Linked DNA regions of Homo sapiens: region 2 is linked to region 1. The links come from fine-mapping of genetic effects on gene expression. Tissue or cell type: blood mononuclear cells. Region 1 holds a variant in brackets; the other region holds the start of a gene. All regions are shown on one strand. Distances are from middle to middle.

Evidence for each region. PIP is the estimated chance that this variant, and not a neighbour inherited with it, causes the effect.
Region 2: it holds the start of PTGER4, and the variant in region 1 is fine-mapped to the expression of PTGER4 in blood mononuclear cells (TOPMed, PIP above 0.99).

The regions. Positions count from the first base shown.
Region 1 is chr5:40,352,519-40,360,783 of GRCh38, reverse strand. No RefSeq gene overlaps it. Among named protein-coding and RNA genes, the nearest start is that of LINC00604, 120 kb to the right of the region's middle. The variant A/G (reference allele first, on the strand shown) is at 5,050.
Region 2 is chr5:40,675,435-40,683,434 of GRCh38, reverse strand. It overlaps PTGER4 (prostaglandin E receptor 4), which reads right to left and starts at 3,520. Exons shown (of 3, transcript NM_000958.3): 1 at 2,957-3,520; 2 at 1,575-2,484. The coding sequence starts at 2,441. RefSeq lists an enhancer at 1,975-2,502 and a silencer at 3,638-3,857.

The DNA of each region.
Region 1 (8,265 bases):
TGACTGGCAATTAGCAGTCCCTAAAACTTTTTGTTTTTATCCTTTCCAGGAAAAAGTCCTTCAAATTTCTTGGGCAGAGTTAATAGTTCTGAAGAACAAACTGGGAAAGGGAAAGGAGAAGGAATCTAGTAGAAATCTAGCTGCTTCAGAAACAGCTTTTCTCACTCTTTTTCATGGAGTCACTTTTCCCTAAATTACAAGTCTAGAGTTAATTGGGTGTTGGTAGTTCCAGAATCTTTGGAAGACTCTGTGGTGGAATGGATTTTGTTATTAGTTTTTCAGCCAATTTTTATTCATCTTTCACAGGTTTCACAAGTCACTGACACTGGTTATCTGCTTTTCAGGTTTCAAAGACCTGTCACTGTTGTCTCCCCTGCTGCTCTCTTCATCTTTGTGGATTAAAAGGTTTTTTGGGGCTTGTAATTTTGGCAGCGTTTCTGGAGTGAATAAATTCTGGGCGTGTGTTTAATCTGCCATCATAATCTTTATAGATGTTATACTACAGTCTTCTTTAAGTGTCTGTTATTTTATGATGAATTTTCTTTCATTATGATTTGCATTCTATATTACTTTCTTCAATCATTTTAAACATACTGATTATATAGGTTTTTTCTTTTTTCAGATCATAGAATCATCCAGTTGTTGAAATGAGACTTCATCGATGTGAAACCATTTCTTTGTGTGGTCTGTAATTTTTTGGACTGTGAGCTTCTGTCATTATCCACCACATCCTCTCCCTACCCTCCCTCCTATGGGAGTTGCTTGTCTTGTGCATGGCAGAAATTTTGCAGGGTAGTTTTGAATTTCCATCTGCATCTTACCCACTCAAGACAAGTTTTTTAATGTTAATTTCTTAGCTTGAGGATTCTTGTTCTCGACAAGCATGTAAATTCTGATTTCATATGTGCATGTTTTGGAGGCATGGGTCTCACTTTCTCATGGTAGCATTTTCTTTTTCTTATTTCCATTCAGAGAAATTCTTTCTGTTTCCCTAGGCTAGTGGGGCTTCTTCCACTGAAAAGACCATTATTTCAGTCTCTTACTTTAGGCAGAGTAGCCAGTGCAGCCCCTACTTGGCAGAGACTCAACACCATGTTATTTCTTCAGAAGCAGACACTGACATGAAAATTTATATGAAAAGAACATAGTTAGTGTTCGCTGGAAAAATTGGGGTGTGAAGAAATGGGAGTGGAAAGAAAATTTGGCCAAGCAAGGGCATAGTATCAAAGTTCTGCTAAGAAAACTTTGGCTCAGTTTTGAAGTGCAGATTCAAAGGTCACACCTTAGATCCCTCCTCCATAGAGGGAAGGGAGTAGGGGTAGCTACAGATTAATCTGTAGTTAAAGGCTTCCCCAGGAGTGATATAAATATCCAGGAGATTCCAACTTTACATCAGTTCTCAAAGGGGATCTAGCAGTCTGAGGCCACCTCGCAAATTAAGAGATACAGGTGCTGACTGTTGTAGGGGATAGTACACAGGGAGGATGAGTGCAAGAGTTGGTAAAGAATCCAAAGAAATGTGGGTAGAGCAATGGCATTTCCTGTTGCCTCCTATCACCACTGTCTGAAGCTATGTTCCAACTCTGCTCCCTCACTACCACTGCTGGCATGGGGGAATATGTCCCCTTCTCCCCTTTTCTCTTTACAGTCCTTCTTTGGAAGAATTTTGGCATTGTCTTTCTTTTTTAAACTAAAAAGTTACAACAAGAGTGGCATCTTCCCCACTTTTATGAACATGAAAAGTGTGTCCACTTTAGCACATTCTGTCATAAGATCTGTAGTATGTACCACTTAAGCAGAAAAAATGACCACATTTCGCTGTGTGTAAAATGATGATGTAGGTGGAGGAAAGAAATAGTTTGGATACTCTAAAATTACATGCTAAGAAAGTCCTACAAAGAATTGTAGAATACAGGGATTTGGCCTTCAGGTAATGCATGTATTCTCTCCAGGTTCACATAGTTGAAGGCTGATTTTAAATTAGGTGCTAGTTTTATAAAATTGCAGACTGGGAATTTTTACGAAAATGGACTTGCAAACTTTACATTTTATTTTATTAGCAACATTTTGAGGAACTCAAAAAGATGATTTACCAAGTACAGTTTGCTCTAAAGAGTATAGTATACCTTCATAAGAGTAACAAGTATATATCTTAGGATATAGCAGATTTACATTCTCTCCTATTATCTATTATTTTACTTGCTAAAATGTAATAGTAATCTGAGAGATGCAGGTGAGATAGATAAGTAAAATAACACAGACATGAAATCCAGATTCTTATTATTATGTATGACTTTTCTTTTGCAGGGTTTGATGTGATTTTTAAGGATGTGCAGGAAGAGACATGCTGCGTGTGTGTGTGTGTGTGTGCGTGTGTGTGTGTGTATGTGAATGCTTGCTATATTCACAGATATATTTGAATAAATTATATGGTCCCTTAGAAGTTTGTCTTGGGGCTGGGCGCAGTGGCTCACGCCTGTAATCCCAGCACTTTGGGAGGCCGAGTCAGGTGGATCAGGAGGTCGGGAGTTTGAGACCAGCCTGACCAACATGGTGAAACCTCATCTCTACTAAAAATACAAAAATTAGCCAGGCGTTGTGGCACATGCCTGTAATCCCAGCTACTTAGGAGGCTGAGGCAGGAGAATCACTTGAACCCAGGAGGTGGAGGTTGCCATGAGCCGAGATTGTGCCACTGCATTCCACAGCCTGGGTGACAGAGCAAGACTCCTTCTCAAAAAAAAAAAAAAAAAATGTCTGGCGAGCCCTAGGGTTTAAAACAAAAGATTATTTTCTTCAGTAAGCACTTTTAAATGTGTACCTTCTCCCCAAAAAGAATAACAAATGAAAACTGAAAAGCATAAAACAAATAAGATAAATGGATGAACATGTAATGAGTGTTAAACTCCGGAGTTGGACCTGAGAGGGCTTTTGCTTTCCATTTCTAGTTCTGGCACCTTCCTCAAGCTCCATAGCTCTCTTAAGCTGCAGGCTTTTTGTCTTTAAAATGTGTGTATAATTCATATCCACTTCTTGGGGTATGGTGAGGACCAGCTGGCATAATGAATGATGCCTACCACAGCGCCCACCTCCTAGTCAGAACTCAGTAAATGGTAGTGACTATAATTATTATTGCATCATTGGCATCAGACTAAAAATAATGTCCTACAGAATATATATTTCTGCTAGCTACTTTAAATCCTTAACTTCACATTCACATAGTATTGTAACAACAAATTTGAATAATATATCCTATTTTCCTTTCCTTTCTCTCCCTCCCTCCTTTTTTTCCTTCCTTCCCTCCCTCTTGTTTCTCTCTCATAAGACTGTGTGTTGCACTCAGATTCAGAGTCATATTAAAATGCTCCTTCACTGCAGTCATATGTATTATTAAATCAGGAAATACAGTCTTTCTAAAACTCCATTAGAAATTCACGGAAGCCTCTCCAGGTTAAACACCAGTTTCAGCTTGACCTCTTTTAGAAAACACTGCACTGGTACTTTAAAGCAAAACTGTTTCCTCTATTTCAAGAAAAGCAAAGGCAAATTATTTTCTAATTCGAGACACCATGGCGCTCTGTGAATTTAGCCTATTATTTTGTTGTAAACCTAAGCTAAAGCACATACTTAGTTTGACATCATTAAGTAAATCATAAATTTAAGGCAAGCAAGCCAACAAACACACAAACAAATATAACCAGAAGATTCGCATTACCAAGTAAAATTGCTAATTTTCTGATATAAACTGGGCTAACAACATTCTCTTCATTTAAATCATGGACAAATTCTGCATGGGTTGAGTTATTATTCCTAATTAATTTTATTATGTAAAGGTTAACAACAGACAGGCCAGTGCTGTTCTATTGTTAAGCTTATGAAGTGTTTAAAATCATATTTCCAAAGAACACTTGAAAATCAGCCACTAGCCATTTTTCCTTGCAAATGGACATTTGTTGATGACTTTATTGTGAAAAATGATTCCTAGAATCTTTTTTTGGGTGATGAGGGGGAAGAAGGAGTCTCACTTTGTTCCTCAGGCTGGAGTGCAGTGGCATGATCACAAAAATGTGCCTTATAATAGAATTTTCCTAAAAAACCAAGTATTAACATTTCTCTACTTTTCTTAAGCCCCGCAGATTTGAAAAAAAAAAAAAACTGATTAACAAGGGCAAACTGCCTTTTGGATCAGGCTATACTAAATAGGAAATAGACCTAGTCTTCTAAGAATTGGGAGAAGACATACCAGTGATATATGCAGTGTTTGAACACTTCTGCAATTTGTGATCTTATTGCAAAAGCACCCAGACTCACAGTTTACTAGAGGTCAGTAAGCTTGGACTGTTGTTGATTGGGGATTGTTCTTGAGTCGACCTCTTTTGTCATACTGTCAGAAGCATTTAAACCAGAAAAACTCCATCTTGAATAGGGGCTGGGTAAAATTAGGCTGAGACCTATTGGGTTGTATTCCCAGGAGGTTAGGCACAAGCTACAGATCACTCTAAGTCACAGGATAACATAGGAGGTCAGCACAAGATGTTGCTGATAAAACAGGTTACAGTAAAGAAGCTGGCCAAAACCCACCAAAACCAAGATGGTGACAAGAGTAACCTGTAGTTGTCCTCACTGCTCGTTATATGCTAATTATAATGCATTAGCATGGTAGAAGACACTCCCACCAGTGCCATGACAGTTCACAAATGCCATGGGAACGTCAGGAAGTAAGTTATCCCATACGGTCTAAAAAGGGAAGGAACCCTCAGTTCTCAGAATCGCCCATCCCTTTCCCTGAAAACTCATGAATAATCCACCCCTTGTTTAGCATATAGCCAAGAAATAACCATAAAATGGGCAACCAGCAGCCCTTGGGGCTGCTCTGCCTGTGGAGTAACCAGTTTTTATTCCTTTATTTTCTTAATAAACTTGGTTTCACTTTACTCTATGGACTCTCCCCGAATTCTTTCTTGCACAAGATCCAAGAACCCTCTCTTGGGGTCTAAATTGGGACCACTTTCTGGTAACAATATGGAGATATTGATCTCATGGGCTTTT[A/G]TGAAGATTAAATAAGATGATATATTCAAAGTTCCTACACAATGCTTTCAATTGAATAAGTACTCAATAAATGAGGTTCCCTTTCCCCTTGACTCTTAGTCCATGTCAATGTTGGAAATTTAAATGAAAACCTCACAGGAGCCTTGGGGCATTGCTTTTCCGGCCAGAAACCTCTGTGGGTGGTGACACCTTTGCCCATGTTTTGCTCACGCATGCTGGGCTTGTTCCACCCACTTGGCCTGGCAGGCTGCACTTGGCTTGTGCTACCAGCCAGGATCCCCTGGCCTGCCAAGGGCAAGCCAGACACGAAGTGGTGAGGGGTGTGTGGGGTGTGTGAGTGAGTGAGCATGGGGTCCAGCCACAGTGCACAGCCAGGCACACCAGCTGTGGTGGGGTGGGCAGCTCCAGGCACTGGCATGGGTGCCAACTCCCTGAGAGGCTTTGGCTTGACCAAGCGTACTGCAAGCAGCTTCCATGGCTGGCACCGGGGAATGCAGTGTTGTCCCTAAGCTTGGAGATGCCAGGAACCACAGATCCCGAAGAGGGTGTCACAGCCTTCAGGGAGCCCATTGGTCTGGGCTCTCTGAAGGGCCATAAGTCTTCTCTCCTTCTCCCTCCTTTCCTTCTTGTCACCCCCAACATGGCAAGTAAGGGACGTGTTTCAGCCGTTTGTGTTACAGCTCTTTTAGCCCTACCATTTGGTGGGTCCTGAGTTCTTGTATTGTGTCCAGGAAGAATGAAGCATATGGACAAGTGGAGGGTGAGCAAGGTGAAAAGGTGCTTTATTGAGTGACAGAACAGCTCAGAGGAGACCTGCAGTAGGTAGCTCCTGTCCGCAGGCAGATCATCTTGACGAGTGTCCACCTCTCAGCAGAGAGGAGACCCACAGTCAGTAGCTCCTCTCCACAGGCAGGTTGTCCTGTCATCTGCCCAAGTCTGCCTGAATCTGGTGTTTTTATTGGCTTCAGAAGGTAGGAAATGCGTGCTGATTGGTCCATGGGTGGCCATGGGCAGGCTCCGAAAAAGCACTCTTAAGTTCTCACTCGGGTCTGTGGAGCTGGCAAACCAGCCCCCAGGCCTCAGGCCATCCCTGGCCTAAAAGTGGGGTTTTACTGAGGACCTGACTCTTTCTGCCCAGGAACCTGTCTGCCTCCTGCTGCCATTTACCTGCCATCCATGATGCCCATGGCACCCAGGCTGTTCATGCCAAGGGGTGCCTTAAGGCCCATGTTAAGTCACCCTTAGCACCCCCTTGGCCTCCCTCTTGTGCTTGTTGGCACCCAAAGTCCGGAGTGGGCCAAGGTGGCAGGGGGTTGACATGTCAGTTTGTCCTGAGTGTACACACACCCGGCCGACTCATGATAGTGCCTGGGCTCAGCCACAACTTTGCTTCAAAATCGGAGTGGGCACTGGGAGTGGGGAGAAGACAGGTAGCAGGAGCAGGCACTTTCAAGCCTTCCTGGGGAGGGGGGCTTCCTGAGTCCCCAGGAGTGCAGAGATGGCTGGGTTTGCAGCTGGGGCTGGGCAGTTGCAGCTGCGCCCAGGAAGGTGGGGCTCCCACCACTCCAACTTGGAATGGGGCGGGGATTCCACCTGTTCCTAGCTCCCACTGGCTCCATGGAGTGAGCAGCCCTGGCTGCAACTTCCCCACTGCAGCTGACATCATGGCAGTGGCCACTCCAGATGGGCTGCTGCTGCCATCAAAATGATATAAACTCGTGAATAATACAAGGTAGAAATTGATTACATGACTGATTCCTGATGCAGACAATAAAAACCGTGGAAGCGCTGAGAAGCCAGAGGTCACTGATGATGCCATAGTTATTTGATAATGAGACATGACCTGTCACTTTAGTGGAGCTACACTGCTTTTAGAACAAAAGCCAAATCCTACTATGACCTATTATGCTTGACTTCACCTGCCTCTACTCGTCCATTAGTCTCACTTCACAACATTCTGTCCTTACCCTCTGTGTATCCTAGCTATCCAAGTGAGAACATGAGATATTTGTCTTTTTGTGCCTGGTTTATTTCACTTAAGATAGTGACCTCCAGTTCCATCCATGTTATTGCAAATGACATTTTTTTAATGACTGAATATTACGTCATTGTCAATATTATGTCAATTAACACTTAGGTTAATTCCATATCTTTGCTATTGTGAATAGTGCTTCAATAGACATAGGAGTGCAGGTGTCACTCCATATGTTGATTTATTTTCCTTTGGGTAAATACCCAAAGGGAACCCTGTATCCTGGCCAATATTCGTTATTTTTGTATTTTTAATAATAGGCTTTCTAACTGGGGTAAAATATTATCTAATTGTGGTTTTGATTTGCATTTCTCCAATGATTAGTAGAGTTTTTTTAATGTATCTATTAGTTATTTGTACTTTTGAGAAATGTCTCTTCATGTCCATTGCATCCTTTTAATGGGATTTATTTTTTCCTGTTGACTTGTTTGAATTTCTTGTATATTCTGAATATTAGTCCATTCTTGGATACTTTGTAAATATTTTCTCCCATTCAAAAGGTTCTCTCTTCATTACTGATTATGTCTTTGTACAAAAGCTTTTCAGTTTAATTAATTTCCATTGTTCTATTGTTTTGTTGTTGTTGCCTGTGCTTTGGAGATATTAGTCATAAATTCTTTGCCTAGACCAATGTCCAGGAGAGTTTTCTTTAGATTTTCTTCTAGTACTTTTATAGTTTCAGGTCTTACATTTAAGTCTTTAATCTATCTTGGTTGATTTTTGTGTATGGTGAAAGATAAATATCCAGTTTCATTCTTCTGCATGTGGCTATTTAATTTTCCCAACAGCATTTATTGAAGAGAGTGTCTTTTGTCCAGTGTAAGTTCTTGTCAGTTTTATCAAATATCGGTTGGCTGTAAATATGTGGCTTTATTTTTGCGTGCTCTATTCTCTTCCATTGATCTATATGTCTATTTTTATACTAATAACATATTGTTTCAGTTACTATAGACTTTTAATGTGATACCTCTAGCTTTGTTCTTTTTGCTCAGGATTACATTATTTATTTGGGCTTTTTTGTTTCATATATTAATACATTTTAGAATTGTTTTTACTAAGTCTGTGAATGACATTGGTATTTTCATAGGAATTGTATTGAATATGTAGATTGCTTTGGGCAACATAGTCATATTAACAATATAAACTCTTCCAATCCATAAACATGGGATGTTTTTCCATTTGTT
Region 2 (8,000 bases), 320 kb before region 1:
ATTACAGACAGTAAAATATATTTATGTGGCTCAAGTGTGACTTAACTCTGTAAATTATATTGGGTCCTGGAATGGCTTAAAGGCTCTTATGGCCTATTATATTTACTTCTGTTTATACAAATTGGTAAGAACCTACTGTATTCTGGCTCTGAGCCCCCTCTAAGTTCCTTCCATTTACAGTCACTTTTATCAAAGATATATTTTTACACCAAAGATCCCTGGACAGTATCAATAAGGAAAAGGAAGGAATAATAGCCCATTACATTTTATATTCTCTTGTTCCCAACAAGCATAAGAAAAAGCAGTTATCTCTTTTTGAGTTGGTAGTTTAGAATTTCCAGGAATGCAGTGTTTTGGAAGATGGAAGAACTCATAACTAGTTGCTTTCAAGAGAAACTCTAGATAAAGTATTGCATTATTCTGCCCATCTGCTTCTGGTGCATTCCATTTTAGCCACAGGCAAAGTAGAAAACTAGGTAGGGTTTGAGCCTTTCTGTTTATCATATTTTAAAAGTTAATCCAAAGGCAATTCTTAAAAGATGAACTAAAAATGAAGTGTACCAAAACTCCAACCCACGCTTTACAAACGCCAAAATGAGAAATGTTCTACGAGGGAGACGTGATGTAATAACACATGAGCTGGGTCTGGCCTCAGACGGCCTAAGGTCCATTACAAGCTGTAGAGCTTTGGCTTGAAGAAACAAAGACAGCCATCTCTAAACCTCGGTTTCTCTAAAATGGTACTGTACCTCGCACAGTTGTCGAGAATTCAAATCCCATACCCTATGTATATCAGCCTGTCCATAATTAGTCACCCTGAGAAACTTTGCTTTCCTGGTCTAGACAGAATGAAAGAAACTGAGTCTGGACCCTGCCCTGTATATGAATTAGAATTTGTGTGCTTTAAGCTGCCCTCCCAGGGCACACCATGGTAAAGAGCAGGGAGCCTAGCTTGACTGTGTAGGTTCGGCTGGATTATTTTAAGCGTATCATTCACTCCCTCAGTGAAGTGAGGGAGTTAGACTAAAACACCTCTTGATATCTCTTCTAGCTTTAAAATTCTACGCAATCCACGGGGGAAGAAATTCAAGAAACCTTGCATACATCAAAACACCAAAAACCCCACTTTCCTTAAAAATGGTTTACAACGAACAGATCACCATCCCTGACATTTCAGGTTTTGCAGTTCACAGTTCACAGTACGGAGGAATGGGCTAAGTCACACTACAGCAGGCTCCCCTCCACGTCTAACAGAGGGGGCGGGGGGTTTTCTTGGAAGACTCGGCCAGTGTCAGGCAGCAAGGGGTAAGGGCTGTCTCGGTGGAGAAAGAAACCCAGGCTTCCGGGAACATAAACTGGGGGATGTAGGGGCAAAGCACCTGCTAAATCTCGTTAGGGTTGGGACTTCAAAGAGGGTTGGGCCTGCTCTGAGAAACAGTGTGGGAATCCCAGCCCCGACCTAAAGGCGACACGTTCACTGCCAAGGACTCAGAGGGAAAGCAGGGAGCGGGGAATGGACGCGGGAGGTGGATGCGAGAAAAAGGCCGAGTAGGGCCCCAGCCCCGGTCACTCACCACGAGCGGGATGGAGCAGATGAGCACCACCAGGGAGGTGGCAATGAGTAAGATGACCATCTGGATCTCGGCGCCCGCGATGCGGCGGAAGCTCCGGCGGCGCCGAAAGTCGCTGAGGCGCGGCAAGGCTGGGGAGGCAGCGGGGTGGCCCCGGGAGGCAACCGAGGCGGCCGCGGCCGCGTGGTGCTGCTCGGTGCCCAGCGAGGTGCGGCGCATGAACTGGCGGTGCATGCGGAGCAGCGCGCCGCACACAAGCACGTTGCAGAGGACGGTGGCGAGAATGAGGAAGGAGCTGAAGCCCGCGTACATGTAGGAGTAGGCGGCGTGCGCCGTCACGTTGGTGGTCCAGTCGATGAAGCACCAGGTGTCTGGGTACTGCAGCCGCGAGCTACCGAGACCCATGTTGGGCAGCGCGCAAAAGAGCACGTTGGACGCATAGACTGCAAAGAGCGTGAGGCCCGCCAATCGCTTGTCCACGTAGTGGCTGTAGAAATAGGCATGGTTGATGGCCAGGTAGCGCTCGACACTCATGGCGCAGATGATGCTGAGGCCGGACAGGCTGAAGAAGAGCAGAATGAAGGTGCTGTACTCGCACAGCGGCTGGCCCCCGGGCCATTGGCCCTTCATGTACGTGGCGATGGTCACCGGGCTCACCAACAAAGTGCCCAACAGGTCGGTGACAGCCAGCCCACATACCAGCGTGTAGAAGGTCGTCTCCTTCTGCTCCTTGCGCGACTTGCACAGCACCACGATGGCCACCAGGTTGCCCACCACCCCGAAGATGAACATCACCGCCGGGATGGTCACTGGGCTGTTCAGCCGGTCGGGGCTCAAGGAGGCGGACGAATTGACCCCGGGAGTGGACATGATAGTGGCTGGCGGTGCGCAGCCTTGGAGTGCAAGGCTGGGTCTGGGGATGGTAGAAGAGAGACAAAGCTGCCGTGAGCGGAAATTACCACTTGTAAGGTGTTAGACCCGCGCCCGAGAAACGATACACTGATAAGACAAGGGGAGCAACTCGATCCTACTTTCTGGATTGTAGCCACTTACCAACTGCGGCCACCAAAATCTCCAGGCTCGCGATACGTCCTGCCAACAGCACACTCTTGCTGACATTAATATTTATAAACTGATTTTCCCATTCCTCTTCCTCCCCACAATCCAACTCACTCCATTGCCAAGATGAATAAGACCCATCTCAAGGGAAAAGTAGCTCGCTAGTGCTATTCTCGATAGATTCTGAATCAATAAAATGCTCACTGAAAACAAGTTACAAAAGCAATTTGGAGAGCGCGCTCTTCCCTTCTTGGCTCTCTTCGGCGAGGGCCGCATCCCTGCGTTCTCTACCCGTTGACCCCAACGTCAGCCCAACGCCATCTCACCTGTAGCGGCAGCAGCGGTGGCAGCCTCACGAGCCCCCAGGGTCAGCCCTCAGATGTCCTGGACCCGCCTCCAACCTGCTTTCACCTTGTCCTGCTCAGTCTGGAAACTGCCAAATCTTCGGCTTCTCAAAGCCGGTCTCAGTGGCTGTCGATTTTTGGACACCGAGGTCAGAGTTGCCAGCTTTCAAAAACTTGGGAAACAAGAGGTGCAGCGGGATGGGTCAGTGAAGAATGGTGCTGGATTTCTTACTCGCTATTTTTTTTCCTTCAAAGACGAGTCCCAGCTTTGCAGTGCCCGCCGGTCTCGTCTGCGGGAGGACAGCGTTCAGGTGTGAGGCTGTGCGCGCAGGTGGCGCGGAGCCTTGGTCCCCAGCTCTGGCTGCCCTCCGCCCCAGCCACGGGCAGCACGGGCGGCTACTGGAGTTTGCGGCTGCCGCTGAGGCCGCTCCTGGCTACCTGGGGGCGGCTCGGGGTCCACTCTGCCAGAGGCTCTGGCCTGGGGCTGTTCATCTTCCTCTCGGGCTGCCGGGCTTGGAGCTCCGCTCTCGCCTTTCCACCCTCTGTACAAACTTTTCTCCTCCTCCAAGTTTCCCTGGCGGAGGCGGAGGCAAACCGCGCGCTGCCCGGGCGCCCATTGGCCGGATTGGAAGGGGGCGGAGCGCGTCCTCCCTGGGCGCCGCAGGGAAGACTGGCGGGGGGCGGTGTCTGGGCTGGGGCGGGGCTGGGCGCGCGGGGTGGGGCGGCTCCCGTGGTTTTCACGCCCTCGGAGGTGCGGAGTGGGAACTCGGAGGGGACCCTGGGAAGCCCCGGTGCTTTCCCCGGCGACCGCTTAGCCGCTCCTGAACTCGGCTTCCAGTGGGGCCACCACTGAAACCGGCGACCGTTTCCGCCTCGCTGCCTGCCGCTCGGAGTGTACTATTTCTTGAACCTCCTGTCCGCGGGCCGCAACATCTAGATCGTGGAAGAGAGGGCAGTTGTTTTAGGATTCTACCTAGGGTTGGCCGAGAAAGGAGAAGAAATACGGTGTCTGCGCTAGCGCGTGCGCCCCGGGGTTAGACTTGGGTGCGCCCAGCGGACGTGGTAGGTGGGTGGGTGGGTGGGTACCAGATTGGGCGGGGAAATAACGAAGAATCCATCCTCTCACCATAAAAGGAGTTGGAGTCAGTTGGCAGTGCCCAGACTGCGGGCTGCGCTTGGTCGGGCACCCCAGGCAAAAAAGAAAAAAAAAAAAGAGAAAGAAAGAGGAGGAGACAGTGATTGCAGCCTCTCCCGGCGCAGGTGGCAGAGCCTTGCGGCTTTGGAGAGAGGTGGAGCCTTGGTGAGGTTGGGAGGACTGCCTAACTGCGATCTTTTTCTCCATTCTTCCTCCTGGGAACTTCTCCGCCCTGAAAGGGTAGCGTGAGCTTCATGCCTTCGGCCGGCCGTGTTATACTCGTTAGACCCAATTCACCATGAATCCTTTGAAAGACTAGTGGAGAGTGAGAAGGGGGTTTCAAAGTCACTGGAGTAAAGGAATTCTCCAAGCACCACCTCATGATTAATTCTTGGAAAAGCCTGTTTGCGCGGCCCTTAGAATCATTTTGACTTCTTGTCTAATGGTGAAGTTTTTCTCTGTAATCCTTCTACTCTGTTTTCTAAAACCAGAACTAAAAACCTAAAAAATTGTAAAACTTCATGGTGTAATTAAAACCCCTTCACCATTTTTTTTAAGTAAGATTGTGTGGCCTTATTGCACAATTTAAATTCCTGGAAAAACCTCTTCCCATCTGCAGTGTACAAGCATTCTAACATATTATGTCTCCTCACAGGGTAAGTAAATAACTGGATTCTTTTATGTGATAAGCAGGTACCCATTTCTTAAATGTTATTTCGTGAACGAACAAACCTCCTAACTGGTTCTTCAGTTAGTCTCAGCAACACATGGGTAATAAGAGAAACTAAAAGGGCTTTCCGATTTCAAGTAATTACAGGTCATAAAATATCCAGAATCATATTTACTTGCAAAAGGCACTATATGGATATACTAATAAAGAATTATTCTGTTTATACTATTTACTTAATAATATGAGAAAGAAAAATACACATTTGTTAGCCAATATTAAGATTGATGGTGATTGGTCATTTTCTTAAAAATCTTCTTTTAATCAGTACTCTAATCACTTCTGTTGTCGATGCTTCCTTTGAACAGTAACCTCTAGGATTGTGTCAGCACAGAAAACAAATCAACATTAGAAAAAAGGAAACTGCACACTCTGCGCCATTCCTCACTAACCACATTGCTTTGCTATCACTCATGTCAGTTGCTTGTCAGTAAATATATGGAGGGGAGGTTGGGAAGTCCCTTATATTCACTTTCTGCTAATACAAATTTTTTTTTTCAATTTTCTTTCCATATGAAGCTTGTAAAAGAGAAAACAATTGGTTGCTATTTATTAATTTAAGAATGATGAAGAATATATTAAATATAAAAACTGAGACACACTGCTGAGATAATTAGTAACTGTTACAGGTATTAGCATGTCATTGACAAACCAGACTTGTTATCAATTGAGCTATTTTTCTTACTAGTCCTTTGAATTTTCTTTCTACAGTAGCTTTAGGAAGAAGGAAAATAAATAACCTAATGCTCAATACTAAAAAATTGTAATGAGGTTTATCTGTAGTCTCTTTTGTTGTACGATTCTTAAAACTTAAATTTAGCTTTCAAAAGTAGAAGTTGAAAGTTTAGGTAGCAAATTATTTTATTTTCTTAGTTTGAAAAACTGGGACAGTGGAGCTCAGTTTCTCTTACACTCTGCCAGGAATTTGCATTGCAAAAGGAAAGGAAAAATTGCCATAATTATGTGGGCAATTCTTGTCATTTTTTTTCAATGAAAAGATTTTTATTCTAAGCACTTTAAAAATTCTCCCTCGCAGTTTCTGCCACAATCCCTACTTCTCTATGCTGGAAGACCCCAGTTCAGTTATTTAAAACTGTCATTAAATAACTCTCTGAAGGTTTGAACTACTCCAAGAACTGTTTGATCAGTTTGATTGCTCTGTTATAGCTAATTATTTGACGAGTTTTTTGAGTAAACATATTAAGGTGGGAACCCATTTATAAACAAAGGCCGCTTGGGAGCTAGTAACCACTTTTAGTTTTCCTTGGATCAAAGGAAATATGGGACAGACAGGACCTGGGCTCAGCCAGCAGGAGTGGGGTGAGAAAGGGGATCATTTCCAGGAGGAAGGCAGCAGGATGAGTCAGATCTGGCCTGGACCCCTTCCTGAGCCGCAGCTGGCAGGATCTTAGAGCATTCCTGAAGCACTAATATTCATGTAGCAAAGCCTGTGCAAATTGTGTTTGCTTTTCTCTTTCATGACAGGCCATGCAGAGACTCAAAACAGTGTGAAAGGCATCTATCAGGTACAAATAGCAAAGTACCCTTGGACACATTTGCCCTCCACAGGCTCTTCCAGTTGGTTTAGTGGATTACAAACATGGCATTCACCTGACCCTAAGATGACTGCCTTCCCTTTTTAGTGGTACATTTCAAATGTGTGCCCTCTTAATTATTTTCATTTTCTAAGCATGAAGTTTATGCTGAGCCCAATGCCTGGAGCTGACACATGTCAGTGCTGTGATTAACTCCCCAACATCTTCATGTGGTGATAAATTACTGCTGTGGAGGCTGGCCCCTACTGAGTGATTGCTTCAGGCTGCTCTGACAGCCTGCTCTGACAATTACACTCCTCAAAGTAATAGCTTTCTGCTCTTTTATTCTGCTCGCTCCCTTTTTTTCCCTCCAGTTTCACCACACGCCCATGTGGATTGGACCAATGGGCAAAGAAAGGAGATTATTTACCTGCAGTGGCCTTTTTTTTTTTTTTTTTTGAGACAGATTCTCGCTCTGTCGCCCAGGCTGGAGTGCAGTGGTGCAACTTGGCTCACTGCAACCTCCGCCTCCTGGATTCAAGCAATTCTCCTGTCTCAGCCTCCCTAGTAGCTGAGATTACAGGCATGTGCCACCTTGCCTGGCTAATTTTGTATTTTTAGTAGAGATGGGGTTTCACCATATTGGCCAGGCTGGTCTCGAACTCCTGACCTTGTGATCCACCCCCTTCGGCTTCCCAAAGTGCTGGGATTACAGGCGTGAGTCACCGCTCCCAGAGTGGCCCATTTTTGAAGATACAAGTGGAGAAATAAAGCCTTACTAGTTAAAGAGTCTCCCCTACAGGAGGAAGGACCTTCTGATTATATTTCGGTTTCTTCTCATACCCAAATTGCTGTATGTTTTAGCAATGTGGAGGATGCACAGAAACTCCCTGGCTTAATCAATAGCAGCAGCATCACCTGTAGCTCATGTTAGTTTATCACTTTCCATAGCAGTTTCACACTTGGCGTTCACATGCGCTTTTATTAGCAACCCTCTGAGGAGGTTAGGTAGGTGTGACAGAGTCTGCTGTGTTGCACCAAATCTTGTTTCCATTTCCTCTGGAACACATAGCTGCGTATTATTTCCCAAACTGACTTCTTGTGGTTAGGTGCAGCTCATGTGACTGAATTCTGGCCAATGGAATAGAGGTAGAATTGATATATGCCACTTCCAGGCTGGGTCCCTATAAAACCCAGTCCTTTGTGCTATTGTTCGTCCTCTGCCAACATAATACAGGTCCCGGGTATATGGCAGAGCCACTAGATAGAAGGTGACTTGGCCTCTGAGTGCCTGTATGGACCTCATTCCAATCCCAGCAACCCTCACTGGACAATGAAGTGAATGAGAAATAATGCACTGAGATTTGAGGGGTCCCTTGTTTCAGCAGTTAGCCTATGCTGACTAATTTAGTATGGTTGATGTAATCTTCCTTCAGTGAGTGAGAATGTGGGCACAGAGATTCTATGTGGCTTGCTGAGAGTCACAAGAATTAGTAAGAATAGCTGAAATTTATCCAATGCTCAGCCTATGTGAGACATCATGCTAACTGCAACATGCATACGCTGTCAAATTCTCACAGCAAACCTATGAGGAAGGTACTAGGCAGTCAGATGCCCATTTCACAGATG